Linked DNA regions of Homo sapiens. The protein of the gene in region 1 binds, or shares a complex with, the protein of each later gene. Each region holds a gene or a part of one and is shown in the gene's direction. Other genes may lie near its edges. The genes, in order: HDAC1, CDK2AP2, MTA1 and MTA3.

Region 1 (4,075 bases):
TAGTCATTCAGCAAACACTGACTGCCCACTATGTGCCTAGTATTTAATAAGGGCTACAGAAGTGGGAGTTGTGGTCTCGGTCTCAGTAACGTTAGACTCTGCTTGTGAGAATAAGATAAACTAAAAGTGCTTGCTCATAATGTAAGGCTTCAAGTCTGTAAGACCGAATGAGTAGAGTAGATGCAGCTAAAGGTCAGGAAGGCTTCCTGGAGGAAGTGGCACTAGAGCTTGGGCAACAGAAGAGACTTAGGGAGTTGAGAGGGAGGCCATTCTAGGTTCAGTGTTACTAGAGTGTTAGAAGGGTCTTAGAGAACTTTTTAAATTGGAAAATTGAAATCCCAAGTGGGCAAGCAAGGGCTCCAGCCTAGCACTCCCTTTTCTCTCCCACATAGCATGAGGGAGAGTGGAAAGGTAGGAGTGGGTGGGAAAGTGTTGCACCCAGCCTTTCCACTCCAAACCTCGTATTGCTTTCTTGAGGTTGGTGGTGACCAGGATGTATCATTTTAGGTCATGTCCAAAGTAATGGAGATGTTCCAGCCTAGTGCGGTGGTCTTACAGTGTGGCTCAGACTCCCTATCTGGGGATCGGTTAGGTTGCTTCAATCTAACTATCAAAGGTGAGACCAGGTAGCACAAGGATGGGTGGGCGGGGTCCTGCTTGGTGCTCCTGTAACTCAGCACCCCTTCTCCCACCAAAGGACACGCCAAGTGTGTGGAATTTGTCAAGAGCTTTAACCTGCCTATGCTGATGCTGGGAGGCGGTGGTTACACCATTCGTAACGTTGCCCGGTGCTGGACATATGAGACAGCTGTGGCCCTGGATACGGAGATCCCTAATGGTAATAGCTGCAGGGCCAGGTTCGGCTGGGCTGGGTGGGAGCTGGAGCTCATCTGTCCTTAAGTTTATAACCCCTTCCCCGTTGGTCATATGACCGCTCCTCTTCTGATACTAGTCACTGAGTCTCCTGCCTGTCCTCTTGTGATCAGCAGACCATAACCATCACTTTTTCCCTAGTCCTTTTTAGCTCTCTCCCCTCTCCCTCCTGCTTTTGGTCTGGACAAAGTTCTCATTGGTAATTTACAGCTTTGGAATTTCTACTCTGTAGAGTAACTGGAGTAGCGAGTGAAGGGAGCGCTCATAATGAGCATGGCCTCAAGTGTCCTAAACCAGGGACATGGGCCTTCTCCTAGCGACATATACACCACTGGTACAGACATAGGAGAGTGATGTTAAAAAGATGGAAATCCCATAGGTACCCGTGTCTCACAGTGTCTTGGAGGCATTCTCCTCTGTTTGGATAAATAGGCCCAGAGAAACCTACAAATGCTTTAGGGTGCTTACGTGCAAATGGTTAGGGTGCGGTGGCCAGGTCTCTTGACGGTCTTCTCTCCTGCCCCAATCAGAGCTTCCATACAATGACTACTTTGAATACTTTGGACCAGATTTCAAGCTCCACATCAGTCCTTCCAATATGACTAACCAGAACACGAATGAGTACCTGGAGAAGATCAAGTGAGTATATCCTCCAGCCACCCCTTGGTTGAACATTCCTGACTTTGGTTTGTCCCTGACCAGAGCCCTGCTACTCTCTCCCATTGGCCACAGACAGCGACTGTTTGAGAACCTTAGAATGCTGCCGCACGCACCTGGGGTCCAAATGCAGGCGATTCCTGAGGACGCCATCCCTGAGGAGAGTGGCGATGAGGACGAAGACGACCCTGACAAGCGCATCTCGAGTGAGACCCAGACCTAGAGCCCTATGCCTTCCATTCAATAGGCAGCTCACACTTCCACCACCATTCCTGGCTGCACACTCCCTCCAAGCTCCCCACCTGTAGAGAAATCTGTTTTCGAGTTCCAGTGCCTGTAGGAACAGGTTAGGGAGCCCGAGTTCCTCCCTCTTCTGGTTCCCTTTCCCTTGGTGTCTCTTGGAGGACACGCAGGGAAGCACTGGGCATAGATGCTGAGCTAAATCAGCACCCGCCTGCCCTCTCACCCATGCTTCCCACTCCCTCCCAGTCTGCTCCTCTGACAAACGAATTGCCTGTGAGGAAGAGTTCTCCGATTCTGAAGAGGAGGGAGAGGGGGGCCGCAAGAACTCTTCCAACTTCAAAAAAGCCAAGAGAGTCAAAACAGAGGATGAAAAAGAGAAAGACCCAGAGGAGAAGAAAGGTGGGTTTGGGTTCAGCTGGGACTTGGGTCTCGAGCCTGAGAGGATGAATCTATGTAGGGCAGTGGGAGGAGGGAGTGACTCAGGCCCTGCCAGCTCCTGTGGGGCTCTTCCTCAGTTCCTTGAGCCTTTCAGTGGCTCCCAGAAGTGGCAGAGCCCACAAAACAATGAACCTCTACTGCCTGAGCACGGCTCTCACATACCACCCCAGCCCTTTTCCCAGCACTGCACCCCAGTTTCCCAGGGGGCTGCCTCCGCCCACCAGGTTCTGGCTGTAGCAGGCTGGGAAACCAGTCCAACCTGTTCTCAACAGGGCTCACTGGGAGGACCAGGGATGGGCTTTTCTCTCTTTATGTCCAGTGAGCTGTAGTGTTGGGGAAGGGGTCTCAGGGTAAATGAAGACCTCATGGGTCTTCCCAGAGGTGCTGCCCTTGGCCATCCCTGTACTCTTGTGTTCTAGAAGTCACCGAAGAGGAGAAAACCAAGGAGGAGAAGCCAGAAGCCAAAGGGTGAGGAAGGAGCTGCCTGTGGCCATCTCCCTGGCATTGGAGCACCAGCCCCTTTGTCCCACCACTCTGAGGAAAGGCACAGGGACAGCTGGTCCAGCTTACAAAGGCCTCTTTCAGGGACCAGTCTGTCCAGCTCTGCAGTTCTAGGCAGAGCTAGGAGCCCCAGCCCCCAGTAGTCACCTAGGATCCTGTGGAAGTCACTGTCTGCACTTTTGCCCTGAGGCTCTGGGCTGGGTCATCTCATGCCAGTCTCTGCTCTCTCCACAGGGTCAAGGAGGAGGTCAAGTTGGCCTGAATGGACCTCTCCAGCTCTGGCTTCCTGCTGAGTCCCTCACGTTTCTTCCCCAACCCCTCAGATTTTATATTTTCTATTTCTCTGTGTATTTATATAAAAATTTATTAAATATAAATATCCCCAGGGACAGAAACCAAGGCCCCGAGCTCAGGGCAGCTGTGCTGGGTGAGCTCTTCCAGGAGCCACCTTGCCACCCATTCTTCCCGTTCTTAACTTTGAACCATAAAGGGTGCCAGGTCTGGGTGAAAGGGATACTTTTATGCAACCATAAGACAAACTCCTGAAATGCCAAGTGCCTGCTTAGTAGCTTTGGAAAGGTGCCCTTATTGAACATTCTAGAAGGGGTGGCTGGGTCTTCAAGGATCTCCTGTTTTTTTCAGGCTCCTAAAGTAACATCAGCCATTTTTAGATTGGTTCTGTTTTCGTACCTTCCCACTGGCCTCAAGTGAGCCAAGAAACACTGCCTGCCCTCTGTCTGTCTTCTCCTAATTCTGCAGGTGGAGGTTGCTAGTCTAGTTTCCTTTTTGAGATACTATTTTCATTTTTGTGAGCCTCTTTGTAATAAAATGGTACATTTCTATATCCTCCTGAGCTTGTTTCCTATGTGTCCCTGGGTTGGTTTCAACTCTACTTCCCTGCCGTTCTGGTGTCCATGAGTATTGGGGCAACCCCCTGAACAAGAAAACCCCATAAACTTACCTGCCTGCCTTAACTCCTCCCTTGAGGTTTGAGGTAAACTACTTTCCACCAATCTTCTCACCCTACCCCCAGAAGACCACTCATTAAAGCACCACTAAAGGGACGACATTTATTCCTTTTCCAAATGTTACAGTAAAACCAGGTGGAAGAGAATGGTTTTAGCAGTTAGAAAAAAAAAAAAAGTACAAATCTGGGGTTTGGCCATTAAAAGTTATTTACAACAGTGGGAGAAAAAAAGACAAGAAGTTGTTTCACATTACAGACCTCCCCCCACCCCAAAGCCTAATACTTGCTTACCAAGTCAAAAAAGAGACACAGTTGATTCACAGGCTGGAGGTTTGAACTTGAGTAAGACATTTATAAAAACCTAGACGGGGCAGTGTCCTCCCCAGCCCAGGTGCC
Region 2 (6,918 bases), on another chromosome or scaffold:
TCCATTCATTTTTTTTTTTTTTGAGACAGAGTCTCACTGTGTCACCCAGGCTGGAGTGCAATGGCACAATCTCAGCTCACTGCAAGCTCCGCCTCCCAGATTCAAGAGATTCTCCTGCCTCAGCCTCCCAAGTAGCTGGGACTATGGGCACGTGTCACCATGCCTGGCTAATATTTTTGTATTTTTAGTAGAGACAGGGTTTCACCATGTTAGCCAGGATGGTCTCGATCTCCTGATCTCGTGATCTGCCCGCCTCAGCCTCCCAAAGTGCTAGGATTACATGCGTGAGCCACCGCGCAAAGTTGAAAGGATTGTACAGAAATACAATGCTGCTCACTAAGATGAAGTTTTAATTCACTGGGCAAGCCAACGAGAGCCCATCTATGGGCTGAATTTAGCAATGGTTAAAGGCTCCAAAATCCAGGGGATGAGCTGTGGGTCTGAGGGCTGAGACCAGAGGGGAGCCCCTAAAGCGTTGTACCAAGGAAGCTGTGCTATCTTCCCCCGAGGTAGACAGAGTCCTCTCTCTAAGATAGGCCACAGTTGTCACCACCCACCTCCCTCACGGAACTCTGTGCCCCTCCTGCCATAGCCCACTGCTCCAAGGAGGAGGGACATCTGAACCTGCTGTAGGGCCAAGCCAGTGGCTCCTGCCTGTAATCCCAGCACTTTGGGAGGCTGAGGTAGGAGGATTGCTTGAGCCCAGGAGGTCAAGACTGCAGTGAGCCATGTTTGCACCACTGCGCTCAAGCCTGGGTGACAGGGTAAGACCCTGTCTCAAAAATAAATAAATAAATATAAATGAATGAATTCAAGGTTCAACCCCTCAGGCACCTCCCAAGCAAACCCCTTCCCCCAAACATGGGTGTTATGGACTAAATGTTTGTGTCTCTCCAAAATTCATATGCTGAAGCCTAACTCCCAGTGTGGCTGTGTTTGGAGATGGACCGCTAAGGAAGTAATTAAGGTTAAATGAGGCCATAAGGGTAGGGCTCTGATTTGATAGGACTAGTGTCCTTTTTTGTTTTTTTACTTTTTTATTTTTTTAAGACAGGGTCTTGCTCTGTTGCCCAGGCTGGAGTGCAGTTGCATGATCACGGCTCACTGCAGCCTCAACCTCCTGGGCTCAAGCAATCCTCCCACCTCAGCCTCCCAAGTAGCTGGGACTAAAGGCACATGCCACCATGCCAGGCTACTTTTTGTAGAGACAGGGTCTCACTATGTTGCCCAGGCTGGTCTTGAACTCCTGGGCTGAAGCAATACTCCCGCCTCAGCTTCCCAGTGTGCTGGGATTACAGGAGTGAGCCACCGAGCCTGGCCCTTCTTTTGTTTTTTAGATGTCGGGTCTCACTGTGTTGCCCAGGCTGGACTCAAACTTCTGGGCTCAATCAAGTCTTCCATGTGAGCTCCCAAGTAGCTGAGATTACAGCCTTGCACCTCCCTGCCCAGCTTCCAGGATTAACGTACTTATAAGAAGAGACACCAGAAAGCTTGTTCTTTCTCTCTGCACCAAGGAGCACATATGAAGACGTGGCCAGAAGGTGGCTATTTACAAGCCAGGAAGGGAGCCCTCACCAGAAACCAACCGTGCTAGCATCCTGATCTCAAACTTGCAGCCTCCAGAACCATGAGAAAATAAATTTTAGTTGTTTAAGCCACCCAGTCTATGGTATTTTATTTTGTTTGTGGAATTAGGCCAGTGGCTATTGCCTGTAATCCCAGCACTTTGAGAGGCTGAGGCAAGAGGATTGTTTGAGCCCAGGAGGTCAAGGCTGCAGTAACTAATAGAATGGGCAGTGGAGAAAGTAGGAAGGTCTAAGGTGTGGAAGTGTCAGAGGTGTTTGAACCAGAGCAACTCCATCTTGAATAGGAGCTGGGTAAAATGAGGCTGAGACCTACTGGGCTGCATTCCCAGATGGTTAAGGCATTCTAAGTCACAGGATGAGATCGAAGGTCAGCACAAGACACAGGTCATAAATACCGTGCTGATAAAACAGGTTACAGTAAAGAGGCCAGCTAAAACCCACCAAAACCAAGATGGTGATGAGAGTGACCTCTGGTCGTCCTCACTGCTACACTCCCATCTGTAAACTGATGCCATGGCAATGTCAGGCAGTTACCCTATATGGTCTAAAAAGGGGAGGCATGAATAATCCACCCCTTGATTAGCATATCATCAAGAAATAACCAGAAAAATGAGCAACCAGTAGCCCTTGGGGCTGCTCTGTCCGTAGCCATTCTTTTATTCCTTTACTTTCTTAATAAACTTGCTTTCACTTTACTCTGTGGACTCACCCTAAATTATTTCTTGTGCAAGATCCAAGAACCCTCTGGTGGGATATGGATCCAGACCCCTTTCCTGTAACAGAAGGAGTTGGGGCTTGGTGGTTTCCAAAGGAGGTATAACCCTCAGTGGCTCCTCTTCACCTACTATCCACAGTAGATTTCTCTGAAGCGCACCCTCAGTGCCACCAGTAGGAGCAGAAGACCTTGGGTGACCTGATCAACACCTTTTCTTTTTAACAGTAGTTGAGTCTGAATATGTATTAGAAAACTATAAATACTGAGCACATGATTAAATGGACATTATGCCTTTTCCTTTCTATTTAAGATTTTGTAAAAGTGAATTAATTACAAGGAAATGTTAAATAGATGGCAAAACTGATGGAGTTTTCCTAATGGCTGGAGTTAGGGAAGCACTGGACTCCGTGGTCAACTCAGCTTCCTTACATCCACGTCACCTAAGGTCCCCTTCCTGACCCTGTGGTTATTTCCACGGCTCCACCTCCACTTCCCAGTGAACTCTCCAGCAGAAAAAAAAAAGGAAAAAAAAAAAAGGCTGGTTCTCAAACACATGTTGTGCTCTCCCATTTCCCAAGATTTTGCACATGACAGTCCCTCTACCTGGAGTGTCCCCTCGGTCTCCGCTTCCACCCCCACCTACTCAAATGCCACCTAGTCTGTAGAGATTTCTGTGATGCCACCCGGCAGGCCCTTCCTCTAAGTTCCAATGCATCCTGTCCCGTTATCCCTTGTGGCCATTGACTTACTGCAATGTAAAGAAGACGTTGCTTCCCTGTCTCAGAGTATAAGGCCTCCTTGAGTACAGAGGCCATGGCCTGTTCATTTCTGTAACCTCAGCGTTCAGCACAAGGCATGGGACGGAGGAGGGAGTCAGAACATGGTTTTTGTGTGTTTTTTTTGGGGGGGGGGTTTGAGACCGAGTCTTGCCCTGTCGCTCAGGCTGGAGTGCAATGGCACGATCTCGGCTCACTGCAACCTCTGTTCAAACGATTCTCCTGCCTCAGCCTCCCAAGTAGCTGGGATTACAGGCGCCCGCCACCACACCGCTAATTTTTGTATTTTTAGTAGAGATGGGGGTTTCACCATGTTGGCCAGGCTAGTCTCGAACTCCTGACCTCGTGATCCGCCCGCCTCGGCCTCCCAAAGTGCTGGGATTACAGGCGTGAGCCACCGCGCTCAGCCAGAACATGCTTGTTGGATGAATGAATGAATGAATGAATGAATGACTGTCCTAGAGATGAAGATCTACAAAGCTGGGAGCATGAAGATACACAAGGCCAGAGAAGTTTGAGTTTGGAGAAGGAGCCTGGGAGAAAGGGTTAGGGAGTGGAGGAGGGTCTGAGGTCTAACTCTGTGGGGAGTGAGACTTGAGGGGAGGGGTCTGAGTGGTGGAGTGGAAAGGTATGGGGGCCCTGTGGGACAGGAAGGCGGAGAATGAAACAACAAGCACTTTATGACTATTCATTTAATCCACACAACCCAATGAGATCGTCATTTTCCCCATTTTACGGATGGGGAAACTGAGGCATACTGAGGTGAGAAACTTGCCTGGGGGAAATCGCTAGTGGGGGTGGTGCTGAGATTTGAACCCAGACGGTTGGCTCCAGTCGGTGCTCTTGACCAGTTTGGTCCGGGGCCCGGCACGCAAGTAATCCCGAAGGTTTGCCCTACGGCCATTGTCACTAACTTAGGCAGCAGCGCGGGGCCTTGGGGGTGCGGGTAAAGGGGTCTTTGAGGTCGCCCTTAGACCTGAGGACGAGCCAAGCCGCAGGAAGAACGGTACGTGGCGGCATCCATGAGGGGCCTGTTGCCATGGGAACAAACGCAGGCCTCGGGCGGGCGCATGCGCAGATCGGGGAGCGGGTGTTGAACCGGTGAAAGGTGACGTAAAAGCGCACGGGGTGGGGCGCAGGGCTCGGGACGTCAAAGCCCTGCGTCCTTCGGCCCCCAGAGCGGAGAAGCGCGCAAGGCACCGGTGGCAGCGGCGACGGCAGCTGCGACAGCAACCCCTGCTGGGCCGAAACTGGGCAGAGCGGAGCAGACGTCTGAAGCAGCGCGAGTGAGGCGCGAGGGTAGCGCCCGCGCCCGGGAAGACCCCTCGGCGCGAACCGGCAGCCCAGCCCCGGGTCCCGGTTCCCAAGGCCCCGCCTCTAGGGCCTGGGGACTAATCGGATTGAGAGCGCGCCGGCCCGGGCCGCGAACTCGCCAATTGCGGAGGGCGGTGGCCACCGCCCAATCCGGAGCAGACAGGTGCGAGGTCCGGAAGGCGGAGGCCAATCGGCGGCGGTTGCGACCTGCTGGGGCAGGTCTCGGCCAATAAGGAGGCTCGAGTGACATCTTCGCGCACCAATCGGGAGTGAGGGAGCATTCGTGCCCGCTCGCCCTTCCGGCCAGACCTCTATTTACCAGGGGCGTGCAGCCCGCTTGCCAATCAGAGCGCGGCTGAGCGGCCCCGCAGCCAACCCCCGAGGAGCGGCCGGCTGGCGTCCGCCGCGCCCAGGAGTTGGGGATGTCCTACAAACCCATCGCCCCTGCTCCCAGCAGCACCCCTGGCTCCAGCACCCCTGGGCCGGGCACCCCGGTCCCTACAGGTGAGGATCCAGCTCCACCCCTGCTCGCCTGCCGGGCGGTCGAGGTCTCGAAGAGAAGACGGCCTGAGTTCTGCAATACTGGGCCTGCCGCCTACCCTCGCTGAGCCTCAGTTTGCTGGCCTGTGAAGTGGGCGTGGTCACGTAAGGGCTTGTAGGTGGAGCGCAGTGGGAGGGATTTGTCCCTGAAGTTGATCAGCATGGAATGAAGCATCCTTTGGAGGGAATCGGGCGAACCCGGTCCTGGGCTTGGAAAAGCTGGGAGGCGGCGTCCCTGCCCCGCGCTGACCTCTTACTCGCGCCTGTTGCTGCAGGAAGCGTCCCGTCGCCGTCGGGCTCAGTGCCAGGAGCCGGCGCTCCTTTCAGACCGCTGTTTAACGACTTTGGACCGCCTTCCATGGGCTACGTGCAGGTGAGTGGGGCCAAAGCCTTGCTTATGGATGCGGACTGGAGTCCCCCTCCCCGCCAGGTGCCTGAGCTCACTGCCCTGTTCTCTTTTGACATAGGCGATGAAGCCACCCGGCGCCCAGGGCTCCCAGAGCACCTACACGGACCTGCTGTCAGTCATAGAGGAGATGGGCAAAGAGATCCGGCCTACCTATGCTGGCAGCAAGAGCGCCATGGAGCGCCTGAAGAGAGGTAAGTGAGGCCAGGCCGCCCTGCTCAGGAAACCGACACTGGACTATCCTTCATGAGGGAAGGAAGGACATCTGGAGGCCACCTGAGCCAAGCCTAGAGGATGTCCAGTATTACTACCAGAGAGGTGTTTTGAATCGAATTGAAATTGAGTCCATTTCCAGGGAAGAGCATGGGAATTTGTATTTCAACAGGGCAACCTTGAGGATTAACCAAACCTCTAATTTCATCTAGCCGTCATTAGATTTGAATTTCTTTTGCCGAAAGTGGAAAGGGAGTGGGGAGGCAGGGGTCCTCCTCTGGAGGGCAGTGGGTGGGGCTGTGGAGGGTTGCTGAGACCCCACCCCACCCCCAGGTATCATCCATGCCCGGGCCCTAGTCAGAGAGTGCCTGGCAGAGACAGAGCGGAACGCCCGCACGTAACAGGAAGCGCCTCGGCCTCAGCGTCTGGACCTATCCGGCCACTGCAGAGCACCCGCTTCTCCCTGGCCTTCATCCCGAGTTGCACTAACCATCCTGGGCTTCCTGTCCTGTGTCCCTTGGTGGGTCCCCTCCAGGAACCAAGGAGTGGCCCTCCAGGTGGCAGCACTAAGGACACCCCCCCACAACAAGAGTTAGCAGCGAGGTCCCCATGAGTCCCACCCATGACCTGCCGACAGTGTTGCCCACCGGAACTTTTGTGGCCCCTACCGCTCAGCCCTTCCCAGCACTTCTCCCACTTTGTCCCGAGCCTCCTTCTCCCCCAGCAGGGGCACAGGCCTGGCACCTCCCTGCCTTGTGTCCTGAGCCATAGTGACTCTTTTATCTGTGTGTCTTTTGCTAAATATGCCCTTTTTATATTAATAAAAGATGATTTGGAGTTGTGCTCTCAGCTCTGAGCCTTTCTGGGTCTGGTTCTTCAGCTAAGCCTGGGTGGGCCAGGCAGAGACAGGGGAAGAGGAGACTATGGATGGGGAGGGTGTGATTAAATGAGGTTTGACTTGCCTCTGTAGGCCATCAGCCTTTGGTGGGACCTGGGCCCTCTCCGCCCCAGCCGTGGCGCTGAGAGCCCTGGGCCTTCCTGTGGTGCCACCAGGGGGCAGCACAGGGCCTGGCTGCTTCCACAGCCCTTGGCGCTGTGGGCAGCCTGGGCCTGGAGGGCGCTTCCTCTGGATTGGCGGTGATGCCTGGCAGCATGGAAATGCCAGTTCACGTAAGCCACTCCCTCACACGCCCTAATGCCCTGACAACACCCCAGCCTCTGAATCAGCCCTGAAGGTCTCTGACTTCTCAGAGAGAAAGGGCACTGCTGCTTCCAGCACTTGGCCTCAGTGTCAAGGGGAGGGGCTGGCGGGGTGCTGCCGTCACTGCCCCAGCACCTTGTAGCAGGCTGGGTGGGATCCCATGAACC
Region 3 (6,434 bases), on another chromosome or scaffold:
CCTACCTGCCCATCAACAGCGCGGCCATCAAGGCCGAGTGTGAGTCACCCCAACGCCCCGCTTACTCTGTTCCTGCGGGTGGTGGGGAGAGAGCAGCAACCTTGGGGCCCAGCCTGTAGCCCCACTGGGAGTTCTGATCTCAGGGAGCCCCACGTCCTCCTCGGTGCTGACATGGCCGAGCCCAGTGAGGGCTCCCAGGTCAAGGCGCAGGCAGGGTCCCGTGCTCCCCTGGGGGTGCCCCACCCCTCACACCGTGTGGTACCCCGCAGGCACGGCGCGGCTGCCCGAAGCCTCCCAGAGCCCGCTGGTGCTGAAGCAGGCGGTACGCAAGCCGCTGGAAGCCGTGCTTCGGTATCTTGGTGAGCAGCCAGGCGTGCTGGGGGGCTCCCAATGCTGCCTGCAGGCAGCTTCTCACCCAAGCTCATGCACTGGTGCTCCCAGCCTTCTCTAGCTGGGAGCTCCTGGACAGCCCCCCAGGGCCTGGAACTGTCCTTTTGGGGTACTCTGCACCGTGCCAGGCTCAGGCAGACCCACTGGGACCCAGGCTGCTCCCTGCTCCTGGGGTCGTGATGGGGCCCAGTGCGGAGTAGCGGCCGCCCTGTCTTCTGCGGGGCCAGCCTCCTCAAGGCACACCCGGGGGCTTCCCTGCCAGTCTCGCTACCCTGTTCCCTGTGTTCTGATCGTCCCTGGGGCCTGAGGGTCTGGGGTTTAGGTGGTGCACACCCCTGCCTGTAATACCATTAAGGCAGCGTCGTACCTGCTGCCTGCAGGGAGTATACTTCCTGAGCCACGCCCACTCCACAGGGGCAGCACTCAGGCCTCTGCACGCCCTCGGCAGGGGGAGGAGCAGCCTCAGGCGGCAGGGGGTTCCTTTGCCTTTGAGCATCTGAGGACACCCGAGAACCTCAGCCGGCTACCCTGGCCCAGCTGGAAGCAGCTTGGTGGCTGGGCCAGACATTTGTGGTGGCGGTGGGGGGCCTCCTCCATTTGCTGGGCTCGAGTGGGCTTGTGCATCTGCCCTCCCGACACAGGGTGACTGTCCTGAGAAGGACATTCCAGAGTCATGAGCCAAGTGTGCTCTGAGATTCAAGTGGCTTTGGCATTGCTCCCTGTTTGGGGTTGTGGCCCCTGTCCTGTGGGAAGAGGTGGCTGGTGTCAGGGCTGGTCCTCAGCAGCTGTGTCCCTGGCCAGGCTGGCTGGATGGTTGGTTCGCTGTCTGACGAGCAGCCAGCCCTCCACCAGCAGCTCCGGGGGCCTGGACGTGGGGGCTGTTTAATAGGCGTGCTGTGCTCACGGGCCTGTGTATGGATCCTGTTGTCCCGGGGCTGAGGGGCCTGGCCCCCGCCAGGTGGTCTCCCTGCTCTCTGGAAGCCCTGGGGTGCGGGACTGGCCCGGGCACACGCCTTGCCGAGGGCTTCTGGGCTTCTGGTTCTGTGGTGACCTCCCCACTTCCAGCCCAGTCAGGATGGGGCCTCGGGTGGGGGCCGCATGGGGCTTAGTTCCTGGGGGTATCCCGGAACCATGAGGGCTGGAGCCTGGGCCTGCCTGCCCCTCCCCTGCTGGGCAGAGGCAACTCGTTCTGCCTGTGTCATTCCCGGCAGAGACCCACCCCCGCCCCCCCAAGCCTGACCCCGTGAAAAGCGTGTCCAGCGTGCTCAGCAGCCTGACGCCCGCCAAGGTGGCCCCCGTCATCAACAACGGCTCCCCCACCATCCTGGGCAAGCGCAGCTACGAGCAGCACAACGGGGTGGACGGTGAGTGGCCCCCCCGCCCGGTGAGTGTGGCCCTCCCCGCCCGGTGAGTCCGGCCCGTCCCCGCCCGGGCACCCGCCGTGCGTGCTGACGCTGTCTTCTCTCCCTCTCTCCCACCCCGGCGCTGCCAGGCAACATGAAGAAGCGCCTCTTGATGCCCAGTAGGGGTAAGGCCTGGAGCCGCGGGCGGGCGCTGCGCCGGCCCCGCCCGTGATGCCTGTGCTGTGCTGCTCTGTGTCCCCGCGGCGGGCGGCCCAGGGCCCATGCTTGGGGCAGTCCACGTGAGCCAGGCCACAGCCCAGTTCCCCACATTCCTCCCGACATCACTGGTCCCTTGGTGAAGACCCCCCGAGCCCAGGCATCTGGCCCTCGGCCCCCTGGCCCCGCCTCCTGTCAGTGGACTGTCCTGGCACGTGTGGCCCTGGCGCCCCTGCCTGCGCTGTCTGCCATCGCGCTGTGACTGCCCGCATGCTGCCAGCCTCAGCTCGTGGGGCCGCCCGTGCTGTGCCTGCAATCCTTCCGTGCGCCTGCCAGGCGGGACAGTGGGGAGGGTGGTCGGGGGTGTCTGTGTGGGCCGTGGGCAACTGAGCTTGTACACATGGGTGCCTTCTGTCGGAGGACTGGCTCAGGTGCTCTGTGCCGGTTGCTTGGAGCAGGGGCTGCGGGACCCCAGGCCCCTTGGGGAAGAGCAGATAGGACCAAGCCTAGCATGAGGAGGCCAGGTGTGTGGGGCCCGGGTGTGCAAGTGCTGGGCCTGCCAGTGTGGATGTGCCTGGAGCCCCTTCGCCAGGCGGCTTTCACTGACGGTGCTGGCCAGGGCAGCAGGGCCGGTTTGGCGACCTGGAGGTGGATATGGGTAGTGGCTGCCCAGCCCAGCCAACCCTGTCCCCTTGGGGCATTCTCTCGAGGCTGCTGGGTGTCCTGGCAGGCACGTCCTGTGGGGTCAGCACGCCGGCTGCAGCGCAGGGTGGGCCTGAGATCGGGTGCCGGGCCCCCCATCTCCACCTGTCTGGACACGCACCCCTGGCCTGTCCTTGCAGCTTCCTCCCGACATCCCTTGGCGGTGTCTGTGTCTCGGCCCCAGCCCCAGCCCTCCTTTCCTGGGGCACCCTCCCAGCCATCTGGTATTGGGGCTGCCCCCATTGCCTAGTCCTGGGCCCAGGGCCAGCCCACTCTGGGCTGGCTTTACTTGTCTGTTCCTAATGGCAGGGCGTCCCAGGAACAGCCCCATAAGAGCTGGTAGAAACAGGAGGGAGTCCTTGTCAGCAGGCATCTTCGAGCTTTTTGTTTTGTTTTGTAAAAAGCGGTTAACCAGCAAGTTACATAAAAGCTTATTTGTTCCCACTGAATTTTCCACACCTCACACGTGAGTCCCAGCCATGCAGTGCTTGTGAGGGAGCATCACCCCTTGCCGCCTGGCTGGGCGGGGCCCTGGGCTCAGAGGGGTCAGCCACAGAGGAAGCGCCTGTCCTGACGTGTAGCGGCCAGGACCTGGGCGCTGGAGAGGGGCCAGCTGGGTGAAGACGGCTCCCGGGGGCACTGGCGCACACGAGGTGGGGTCTCTGTCCAGCCTGGGTAGGCATGAGCTGAGCTCGAGTGAGGGCCCTGCCTGCCCACAGCACGGGGCCCCAGCGCTCTAACCCGGCCATTTGCCCGTGCAGCCTGTTGCGCTGTCCCCACCTGCGGGGCCTGCAGATGGCTGCGTGTGGCTCACTAACCTAAAGCATGTGTTTCTTCCCTCTGCTGTCCACCGCTCTGGTAGGCACTTACCTGGGTAAGTAGTTTTTGTGCTACTGGCCAGCCCTGGGCGCTGGGCCTTGGCTTGTGGCAGGTGCCCTGAGGTATGGCTGTTCCTGCTTGGGAGCGCCGCAGATCAGGCACCTGGGCCCCCACCTGACCCTGCCCGGCAGAGCTAAGCAAACTGGCAGGGAAAGGCTGACCCAGGGCTCCAGGGCCCCAGTTGGCCCCCAGGGGAGTGCCCCAAGTTAGGAGGCAACTGCAGGTGGGGAGGGGCTGGACAGGCTGCTTCTGTTCCTTAAGGGATGGGCCTCAGCTAAGCAGCGTTTCTGGAGCTGGCAGGTTGCTCCGATGCCCCTGGGCCCTGGCACCTGACTGAGTTGAGTATGACATCCTGTCCTCTCTGAGCTGGTCCTGCTGGGAGCCGAGCCATCCTGGGACCAGCTCCCACATGCACACGCCCACACCTACACACAGGGCAGTGGGGAAGGGCAGTGAGTGGGGGAGGGCAGCGGCGGTCCTGGGCCCAGCTGGGGGTGACCAGGAGCATGGACCCCGCTTCTTGGCCCAACTCCCGCAGTGCCCCTTGGGCTCCTCACCCTGCACTGTGGGAAGTCAGAGGCCTCTGGCACCCCATCCCCAAGCACATGCCAGGGTGGCTGGGGCCCAGCCAGGGCAGTGGGTGGTGACCTGTTTCTGGCCGGGGCTGGCGGCTCTCTCAGAGCCTTAGGAAAAAGCCCGGCCTCCTGGTGGGGCAGTGCCGGCCACAGCGTGGCTGCCCTGCAGAGGGGCTTGTGCCGCTGCTGGACTGACAGCCTTGCGAGGCTTTGCTTGTCTCGGCACGGCAGGCAAGTGGGTGGACAGCCCCGGCCCCTGTGCAGGGAGGTGACTGTCGGGTCCAAGGCTCCTGGCCTCCTGCCTGGAGCCCAAGCCAATGTGTCTCTTGCTGGCCAGAGAGCTGTGGGGCCACCAGGCGGCCCAGGACCCGGGGATGCGAGGCCCCACGTCCCCCAGGCCCATCCTGGGTGTGGGCTGTGGCTTGGTTGGCAGATGGCCCCGGCCCATTGTCCCAAGGTGGCTGAGGCCGTGGTGGGCGGTGGGAGTGCAGGACGCGCTCTCTCGGGGCCTCATTTCTCTCCTCCATTTCTCATCAGGTCTGGCAAACCACGGACAGGCCAGGCACATGGTAAGAGGAACAACCCATGATGGGGTACGGTGCGCTCACCCATGAGCTCTCTGGGGTGTTGGGAAGAGGCCTGGCCAGCCCTGCCAGGTGCCACGTGGAAGCTTCCAGGAGGCCTGGCAAGACCAGAGGGGCTGCAGCATGTGGGGGCCATGGCCCCTGTGCCAGGCCCAGCGGTGTGCGGCCGACCAGCCCTCAGGGCTGCCCTGGGCCAGGCTGGGGGTCCGTGTAACTCACTGGGGTGGTGGGGGGTTGGCCAGGCACAGCACCTCCCAGCGGGAGCCCTGCAGGTTGAGGTGGAGCTGGCCCTTGGCTGGCTGCCCAGGAAGTGCACCCCCTCTGCAGGGACCAAGCCGGAACCTCCTGCTCAACGGGAAGTCCTACCCCACCAAAGTGCGCCTGATCCGGGGGGGCTCCCTGCCCCCAGTCAAGCGGCGGCGGATGAACTGGATCGACGCCCCGGATGACGTGTTCTACATGGCCACAGAGGAGACCAGGTGGGGCCTTCCCAGGGCAGGCGGGAGGGCTCCGCACAGCGTCCCGGCCCTCACCACCACCTCTGCCCACAGGAAGATCCGCAAGCTGCTCTCATCCTCGGAAACCAAGCGTGCTGCCCGCCGGCCCTACAAGCCCATCGCCCTGCGCCAGAGCCAGGCCCTGCCGCCGCGGCCACCGCCACCTGCGCCCGTCAACGACGAGCCCATCGTCATCGAGGACTAGGGGCCGCCCCCACCTGCGGCCGCCCCCCGCCCCTCGCCCGCCCACACGGCCCCTTCCCAGCCAGCCCGCCGCCCGCCCCTCAGTTTGGTAGTGCCCCACCTCCCGCCCTCACCTGCAGAGAAACGCGCTCCTTGGCGGACACTGGGGGAGGAGAGGAAGAAGCGCGGCTAACTTATTCCGAGAATGCCGAGGAGTTGTCGTTTTTAGCTTTGTGTTTACTTTTTGGCTGGAGCGGAGATGAGGGGCCACCCCGTGCCCCTGTGCTGCGGGGCCTTTTGCCCGGAGGCCGGGCCCTAAGGTTTTGTTGTGTTCTGTTGAAGGTGCCATTTTAAATTTTATTTTTATTACTTTTTTTGTAGATGAACTTGAGCTCTGTAACTTACACCTGGAATGTTAGGATCGTGCGGCCGCGGCCGGCCGAGCTGCCTGGCGGGGTTGGCCCTTGTCTTTTCAAGTAATTTTCATATTAAACAAAAACAAAGAAAAAAAATCTTATAAAAAGGAAAAAAACCAACCGGTCCTTCCCTGTGTCTTTTGTTCCCAGTCCCTCTCCCTGACTCAGGCCCTGGGCCCCCCACCCCCATCGGGCGGCCCTAGGCTGTGGCTCTGCCGTGGAGCTGGAGGCCCCTGGAGGCCACCTCAGCCAGGACAGCCACCCCAGCCTCTGGGCTCTGTTGCTCTCCCACCTGCCCACAGACCTTCCCCTGCTGGGGCCTGGCGCGGTGCCCTCTGCCCTCCCCAGGGGGCAGCAAGCGGTTGCAGGGCCCAACCCCCTTCCCCAGCAGAGCTGTGCTGAAACCGTCTGTGCGTCTGTGTCTGCGGCAGCGGTGGGCCGGGGACTGCCTCCCGGCAGGCAGAGCTGGCCCTGCCGAAGACCCTGTGGCTTCCCACCAGGGCAGCCAGTGCAGCTGGGCCAGCGAGGCCTTGGAGTGCTCCAGCCAGAGGCCCAACCTCCTGGCCATGTAGAGCCTGGCCCCAGCCGCCTGAGGGTTTCTGCCCAGAGCTCTGGCCCCCAAGCAGGTGTGCAGTCTCCACAGTGAGAA
Region 4 (7,447 bases), on another chromosome or scaffold:
CATTTCTGTCCCCATTATGACTTAGTCCCTTTTCTACTACCTAAAGGTAATGTTACTAGAGAAGGAACCTTCTTGTGGAAGCAGCCAAATGGCTGAGCTAGCTCCCCTGTGAGGGCATGAGGGAACTATGGGATCCGAAAACACATACTGCCCGAAACCAAGACCTTTAGGGATTTCATGTTTTTTGCACAGGAGATCTATGGAAGAACCATCTCTATGACTAGAGAAGCTACAGAACTCCCAATTCTGTTTCCTTTCTCCTTGGGGCTCTTCTGCTTTGATTCTTGCCATCATATGCCTACACTTCTCTTGGGTTATGTTCCTCTGCCTTTAAAACCCAGGCCCTCCTTAGAATATGAGACAGACTGGCCTTTTCTGAAAGAATTTTACTAAATAAGAGAAGAAGTTAATGAAAGGAAAAAGAAGAGAGAAATAAATCATGGAAAACACGAACCAACAAGATAAAGTCCCTTTTCCAAAGCCTGGCCTCTGGTTTCAGATTAATTACATTTTAGACCTCCAGGCTCCTGTCCTGGGTTCAGTATGACAGAACTCCCAGACTGTGGCCAGCACCAATCTCTTTTAATTTATTTTTTTTGAGATGAAGTCTCGTTCTGTTGCCCAGACTGGAACACAGTGGTGTGATCTTGGCTCACTGCAATCTCTGCCTCCTGGGTTCAAGCGATTCTTCTGCCTCAGCCTCCTGAGTAGCTGGGACTACAGGCGCTTGCCACCATGCCCGGCTAATTTTTTGTATTTTTAGTAGAGATGGGTTTTCACCATATTGACCAGGCTGGTCTCGAACTCCTGACCTCATGATCCGCCGGCCTCGGCCTCCCAAAGTGCTGGGATTACAGGTGTGAGCCACCGCGCTCAGCCAACCGGCACCAATCTCTTTTTATTTTTTCGCACATATAAAAACTCCATCCCTACGTTGAGACAAAAACCAACTCTCCATTTTACCTATTCACCTAAAGCTTTCTTTTTTTTCTTTTGTTTATTTATTTTGAGACAGAGTCTTGCTCTATTACCCAGGCTAGAGTGCAGGGGCATAAACATGGCTCACAGCCTCTACCTCCTGGGCTCAAGCGATTTGCCTGCCTCAGTCTCTTCCAGAGTAGCCAGGACCATAGGTGCGCACCAACTGGCTAACTTTTTTTTTTTTTTTTTGGTAGAGGTGGGGTCTTGCCATGTTGCCTAGGCTCAAATGATCCTCCTGCCTTGGCCTCCCAAAATGCTGGGATTACAGGCGTGAGCCACCATGCCTAGCCACCTATAGCTTTCTTGCTGCATCCACTTCTCTTCAACTAAATGGTAAAGAACTACCTTGTATGTGGTTCTTTAATTGCAACAACTGTGCAAGGAAATTTCATCCATGGAAGGGCTGGATTTGCCCTGGGATTTCTGGCATGGCCTGAGAGACACTTCTTCCTTAGTGATGAGAATAACTGGAATAGAGAGAAGGGACCTAACGCATATGAAGCGCCCAACAAGTGCCAAACACCTTCTATATTTAAATTTTACCAGGCTGGGCATGGTGGCTCATGCCTGTAATCCCAGCATTTTGGGAGGCTGGGCAGGCAGATCACTTGAGGTCAGGAGTTCCAGACCAGTGTGGCCAACATGGTGAAACCCTGTCTCTACTAAAAATACAAAAATTAGCCAGACGTGGTGATGGGCACCTGTAGTCCCAGCTGCTTGGGAGGCTGAGGCAGGAGAATTGCTTGAGCCTCGGAGGTGGAGCTTGCAGTGAGCCGAATCCGAATCGTGCCATTGCACTCCAGCCTGGGCAGCGAGAGCGAAACTCCGTCTCAAAAAAAATTTTTTTTTCTACCATAAGCCTTTGAGGTAGGTATCAACCAGTAGTCATATTTTGTAACCCCTCTTGAGGCTCAGAGGGGTTAAGTAACTTGCTCAAGGTCTTTATAGTTAAACTGCCAAACTAGGAGTGAAGTTAGGGCTGGTTGATGACAAGTTTGTGGTCTAAACCATGTAGCTAAGAAGGGAGAGGCGCCTTTGCTTTTTTAAAGGTGCAGGCTTTCCACCCGTCTTTGGTTGAAAGGTTTCTTTCAATCTACAAACATTTGCTGAACTCCTTTATGTGTGAACCTCTCTGGAATTAGGACATATAAAAGTTTCACAAAGTCCTTGTATTCAGCTCTTCTGATTCTTTGAGTCCACGATTTGTTGGTATTTATTCTTCAGATACTGAGCATCTACTGTGTCAGCTCAGAAATGTAGAGGACATTGGCCTAGGAGCTGGACATGGAAGAGACTAATATATAGAATCTAGAGCAAAAAACGGTTCTAAGGCCTGCCACCATCATTACCTCCTGCTAGTCCCCTTCAAGTCTTTGAGGCCTTTCATGGGGGGCTTCTGGATGAGGCTGTTCCTAAGGGGACATAGGGAGGAGTTTTCTCGGCATCTTTCACCATTTATTGTGGTTAGCACAGTCATCATAAACACCTGGCAAGAGCACTAAGCTTGGGAAATGAGACAGGCACACAATGAATTAACAAAAACAGGGAAAGATTTCGAAGGAGGAGAAATTGCTTATGAAAAATTAATGGGAAAACATCCTAAAGCTTGTGATCCACTTCTTTGCACTTTATGGTTTCTAGGTGGCTTTTGTACTTGGAGAAACACTGTGGTTCAGAACATTCTAGGCCAGAGGAAAGGGCTGATTCATAATCCCAAAATTGCTGCCAGTTTACTGTGTGATTCCAGGTGAATTATTCAACCCTATTTATGTGTCAGCTCAGAAATGGAGTGATGTCAGTTTTGTCAGAATGTTTTTGGTGGGATCTCTGGTAAATGTTGAATGACAGCTATGCAATGTGTGGAACAGAACACTTTTGCTTTCTTCTTTGGGTCAGAATTTGACACATGGCTCAGAATTTGACACACAGCAGAGAACCCTTGGGAATCTGTGGTTTTCTGGGGTTAAAAAGAAAGCAAGAGACACCTGTTATTTGCATGGTGCTCTGTGTTCCCTGGTTTACAAAGCATTTTCAGATATCATCGCAACTGATCCTTACCACACCTGTGAAGGGGGAACTCACGTCCCCATTTTATAGACGAGGAAACAGGTCATAGAGTCAATGTAATTCAATAGTGCTTTATTTTTTATTTTTATATTTTGCCTCAGCTATGCACAGTTTTTTCATCTCAATACTTTGTGATAAGTGACCATCACAAATGTCATCACCAAACCACCAAAACACAACCTTCTTTTCTGGGGGCACCTCTTAGCCCCGCACAGACCTTAAACCCAGAGTCGACAGCACACAGCTGTGTATCACCACACATTCCAAACAAGCCACCACACCAAGAAATCTTCTTCGTGTTTATTATGCAGCAATGTCTGGGAGTACTTTGGAATGGACTGGCTTCTCTAAAGAAAGTTATTTGTGTTCATTTGGGGGATCGCCAGCTAAGATTCAACGTTGTTTTTTTTTTTTTGTATCTGTGAGAGTAGGAAGGCCGTGAAAACAGAGGTTGTTTAGAGAATTGGCCTGGGACAATAACCATTTAGAAGCTTTAGGCACGTAACCAGTTAAGTGTCCATCGACATGAAACTGATTGAATACAATCTCCTCTGTTTGGGGGTGGTGGTGATTGTGAACTGTAGGGCCCTGTTCCCCCATGGACAAAGGAAGCCCCTCACTCCTAAAGGTCCCTTTTCCCAGCAGAACAGGCCCTGCATATACAGTGCCCGTCTAGAGCCAGGGCCTCCATCTGGGTGTTGGACAGTTGGTTCTGCTCAGCCCAGTTTTGGGGTAAACGATGACGCAGTTAGGGTGGCCTAGGAAGGGAGTTTTTCTACCTCTGTCCCCAGCTGGGTCTCTGGCGAGGCGGGAAGCACCCGGAATCTTCCTGGCCCTAGAGCCTGCAGGCTCCAGGCCGGCCCCTTGAATCTCACCGCGAGGAAGGCACCCTGCTGCCTGCACTTATTTGCATCCAAGAGTTTGCATTGAGACTGGCGCTTGCCTACTAGGGCAGCCACAGGGGGGTTCCCCAGGGACAGAGGTAGGGAAGGAGGACCTGTCTTGGGGTGGACAGGTGACGGGGTACCCTGGGTGGGGGAAGAGGTGCTGGGGAGAGGCTAAGCCCCAGCCCCCACTCTAATTCTCTAACAGCCCCTGGTCCGCATTTGAGTGCAGGCCTCTGCCTCAGCCAGGACCCTGACCCCAGGGCCCTCCACTTCCAGCAAGGCCCCCCACCCTCCCTCCCACTCCCACTCCCTTTCCCCTCCCCCTCCCCCCCAATTCCCGCTGGCCCCGCAGCGCTCCAGCCTCCCCGGGCCTCCCCCGGCCCGGCCCACTCGGCCTTGCTAGCCTGGCGCTGGGGGCGGGCACCAGCCCCCACCCCTCGGCGTACCATCCCCTTTACTTCCCCCACCCCCTGTCCCCTCCCTTCCCTCCCTTCCCCCCCGTGGCGAGGCAGCAGCGACGGCGGCGGCGGCAGCGGCGGTCGCGGCTGAGGCTGAGGAGGAGGCGGCGGCGGCGGGCGGGGCTCGGCTCGGGCTCCGCGGGCGGGCGGGCGGACATGGCGGCCAACATGTACCGGGTCGGAGGTAGGCAGGCTCGGCCCGACCCGGCCCGTGTGGGAGCGGGTTCCGGGAGCGGGGGGCCGGGGCGAGTGCACGCCAACTGCCGGGAGCCAAGGGCGCCGGGGCTGAGGTCGCAGTGGGCTGGGGCGCCGGGGCCCGCAGAGGGGCCGGGACTCCCCACCCCCACCCATCCCTTCCCCTCCCCCCACGCGGGCTCGCGAGGGCCCGGGGCCACCTTCACCCTCGCACCCCGCCCAGTGTTTAGGGCCAGGCCTCTACTTGGGGGTACGAATTACCAGACACCCCCCTCCACGAAACCCTCATCGGGGTAGGGCCCGTCGAGCCCCCTGAGAAGGTGGCCTTCTTGCGTGGCTTCTAGGCGCTGGAGAGGATGAGGGGACATCCCCTCTCCTGCTTCTTCCCCACTCAGTGGGAGCCTGGGGTGGGGGTGGGGGTGGGGGCGGTGGGGGCCCAGCCAGGGGCCCAGCTGGACGGGCCTGTTTGCGTGCCGGGGCCCTGCACCTCCCCTTCCTCGGCCCCCCTCCTTTTCGTTTCTGGTCCAGTCCCCCACGAATGGGGCTTCGTGGGAGCTGGGAACCTCAGCCGGAGGTGGGGAGTTGAGCTCTGCCTGGACGTTTGCTCTGCTGCCTGCCTCCTTCCCAGTCTTCTGCGGAAGAGAGAAATAAGGTCAAACAAACTTTCTCCCTACTCACGACGCCCTCCTCCCTCTTTCCTGGTAAAATAATAATTCAGATAAGTGGCGTGTTTGTATGAGAGACTGGCTCTTCCTTCTCTGCTCATTAGCCGAGCTTCTGATGGATGGTGGTGGGAATGGCCTGGCTAAATGAGGCCACTTTGCAGAAGAGAGCGGCGAAAGAGCCACTAAGATAGACAATAACAATGCAGCTGCCTTTCGGATAAACACACAGTGGGAAGTTTCCAGCAAGCCTATTAGATGAGAGGAAAAGCCACACTTGAAAAATTTTATCCTTTTAGTTGAAAGCCTGCAGCAATTTCTTAATCACAAGACATTAAATGGATCTGGATTAAATATGGTAAAAGGGTAAAAAAGATGCTGATATCACCCCCAGAACACTTTGCCTCTTAGAAGTGATCCCCCGGCCCCCTTTTTTCCTCATCTTCCCAGGTAAAACTGTGGAAAAGTTTGTCAGCGTTCTTCCTCTTAACCTGTTCTGCTCATCTGATTTTTTTTTTTTTTTTTAAGTAGTGATTGAAATGTAGGTTGGACTGTGAAGCCTTTCTCCCTGCTCTGAATGTGTCTTAGGTCAATAGTTTTATGTGAGAAGCAGCCTGCAGGGCAAATTGTATTGGAGGAAAAAGATGTGGAAGTAGTTATAGTACAGAGGACACATGTTTAGCGTGCCCTGACTACACAGTGATAAGAGGTGTCTTTTTTGTTTATTATTAAAGAAATGACGTATTGGGACAGAAGTCTAGGAGAAACTGATAAAACATTAATTGAAATGAAAATGCCAAGAAAATAAAGGTCTGTGAATAGTAGGCACGTGAGAGGATATATTAAGGCTGCATTATTATGTTTGCTTTTACCAGTGAATGAATTATGAGCTTAATTTCAAACGTGAAATGCCTAACATAAAAAGTCTTGGATTGACAAATCTGAACTTTCTGTTAAAAAGATTAAGTTCTGTACTTCCTTTAATTACAGATTATGTCTACTTTGAGAATTCCTCCAGCAACCCATACCTAATAAGAAGGATAGAAGAACTCAACAAGGTATACACTGAGTGTTCTTAATTTTAATATTAAAAATATTTATTTTCCCTTGATGGGTAATTGGGTAAAGGGTGGCCTGGTGTGGGGGCTCATGCCTGCAATCCCAGTAAATTGGGAGGCCTGGCGAGTGGATAGCTTGAGCCCAGGAGTTGGAGACCAGCCTGTGCAACATAGTGAGACCCTATCTCTTATTTTTTTTTAATTAATATAAAAAGTAAAAATATGGCTGGGTGCGGTGGCTCATGCCTGTAATCTCAGCACTCTGGGAGGCTGAGGCGGGCGGATCACCTGAGGTCGGGAGTTCGAGACCAGCCTGACCAACATGGAGAAACCCCGTCTGTACTAAAAATACAAAAAAAATAGTCGGGCATGGTGGCACATGCCTGTAATCCCAGCTACTCGAGAGGCTGAGGAAGGAGAATCGCTTGAACCCGGGAGGCGGAGGTTGCGGTGAGCCAAGATTGTGCAATTGCACCCTAGCCTGGGCAATGAGATAAACTCCGTCTCAAAAAAAAATAAAAATAAAAAAATAAAAATAAGCTGGGTAAAGGGGCATAAGAGATGATTTTACTTTCAGTCCCAGACTCTTTGAAAGATGAGATTTTAGGCTGGGCATGGCGGCTCACCCCTGTAATCCCAGCAATTTGGGAGGCCAAGGAGGGGGTGGATCACTTGAGGTCAGGAGTTCAAGACCAGCCTGGCCAACATGGTGAAACCCTGTTTCTACTAAAAAAGTACAAAAAAATTAGCTAGGCATGGTGGCATGCACCTGTAATCCCAGCTACTCAGGAGGCTGAGGCAGGAGAATCCAGGTGGAGGTTGCAGTGAGCTGAGATCACGCCATTGCACTCTAGCCTGGGTGACAGAGCAAAACACTGTCTCAAAAAAAAAAAAAAAAAAAAAAAAGTTGAGATTTTAGAGAGTTATGCACGATTCTGAATTCCGAATATTCTTTTGCTTTTTTGTTACTGAATATTTAAAAGTGTGCAGATATTTTCAAATTGCTTAGAGCCTCTGAAAGAGCAGTTCACTTATGTAACTCAGACCCTTTTTATGTTTAGAGTCATAATGTGTATTTTTCCCTTTTTAGTGAATTAATATTTTCCTCTTCCAGGTTTAGAAGGAGGAAGCTAGGGAAC

What was found.
Region 2: HDAC1 (region 1) and CDK2AP2 share a complex: the UniProt entries of both Homo sapiens proteins name them as parts of the nucleosome remodeling and deacetylase (NuRD) repressor complex.
Region 3: the proteins of HDAC1 (region 1) and MTA1 are in contact, whole or in part, in a cryo-EM structure (PDB 7AO8), measured with the Homo sapiens proteins. Residues at the interface, in NP_004955.2 of Homo sapiens: Lys10, Tyr14, Gly20, Asn21, Tyr23, Gln26, Lys31, His33, Arg36, His39, Asn40, Leu43, Asn44, Tyr48, Arg49, Lys50, Met51, Glu52, Ile53, Tyr54, Arg55, Pro56, His57, Glu63, Lys66, Tyr67, Asp104, Val118, Ala119, Val122; in NP_004680.2 of Homo sapiens: Asn132, Glu135, Ala162, Asp163, Gly165, Glu166, Ile167, Arg168, Val169, Asn171, Arg172, Tyr173, Gln174, Ala175, Asp176, Ile177, Thr178, Asp179, Leu180, Leu181, Glu186, Asp187, Arg189, Gln191, Ser192, Arg193, Leu194, Glu195, Thr196, Gln197.
Region 4: HDAC1 (region 1) and MTA3 share a complex: the UniProt entries of both Homo sapiens proteins name them as parts of the nucleosome remodeling and deacetylase (NuRD) repressor complex.

The regions. Positions count from the first base shown.
Region 1 is NC_000001.11:32,330,071-32,334,145, forward strand, and holds the end of HDAC1 (histone deacetylase 1), read left to right. Parts: intron 1-507; coding exon 508-616; intron 617-697; coding exon 698-838; intron 839-1,403; coding exon 1,404-1,512; intron 1,513-1,605; coding exon 1,606-1,736; intron 1,737-2,019; coding exon 2,020-2,172; intron 2,173-2,630; coding exon 2,631-2,679; intron 2,680-2,946; coding exon 2,947-2,974; 3' UTR 2,975-3,556; downstream 3,557-4,075. UniProt on the Homo sapiens protein: Histone deacetylase that catalyzes the deacetylation of lysine residues on the N-terminal part of the core histones (H2A, H2B, H3 and H4).
Region 2 is NC_000011.10:67,505,978-67,512,895, reverse strand, and holds CDK2AP2 (cyclin-dependent kinase 2-associated protein 2), read left to right. Parts: upstream 1-4,733; 5' UTR 4,734-4,813; coding exon 4,814-4,895; exon of another isoform or gene 4,896-5,206; coding exon 5,207-5,304; intron 5,305-5,398; coding exon 5,399-5,531; intron 5,532-5,883; coding exon 5,884-5,951; 3' UTR 5,952-6,399; downstream 6,400-6,918. UniProt on the Homo sapiens protein: Acts as a component of the histone deacetylase NuRD complex which participates in the remodeling of chromatin.
Region 3 is NC_000014.9:105,464,825-105,471,258, forward strand, and holds the end of MTA1 (metastasis-associated protein MTA1), read left to right. Parts: coding exon 1-39; intron 40-269; coding exon 270-359; intron 360-1,601; coding exon 1,602-1,754; intron 1,755-1,882; coding exon 1,883-1,918; intron 1,919-3,513; coding exon of another isoform or gene 3,514-3,525; intron 3,526-4,642; coding exon 4,643-4,674; intron 4,675-5,016; coding exon 5,017-5,168; intron 5,169-5,240; coding exon 5,241-5,391; 3' UTR 5,392-5,905; downstream 5,906-6,434. UniProt on the Homo sapiens protein: Transcriptional coregulator which can act as both a transcriptional corepressor and coactivator. Acts as a component of the histone deacetylase NuRD complex which participates in the remodeling of chromatin.
Region 4 is NC_000002.12:42,564,197-42,571,643, forward strand, and holds the start of MTA3 (metastasis-associated protein MTA3), read left to right. Parts: upstream 1-4,435; 5' UTR 4,436-4,549; coding exon 4,550-4,577; intron 4,578-6,240; coding exon 6,241-6,308; intron 6,309-7,447. UniProt on the Homo sapiens protein: Acts as a component of the histone deacetylase NuRD complex which participates in the remodeling of chromatin.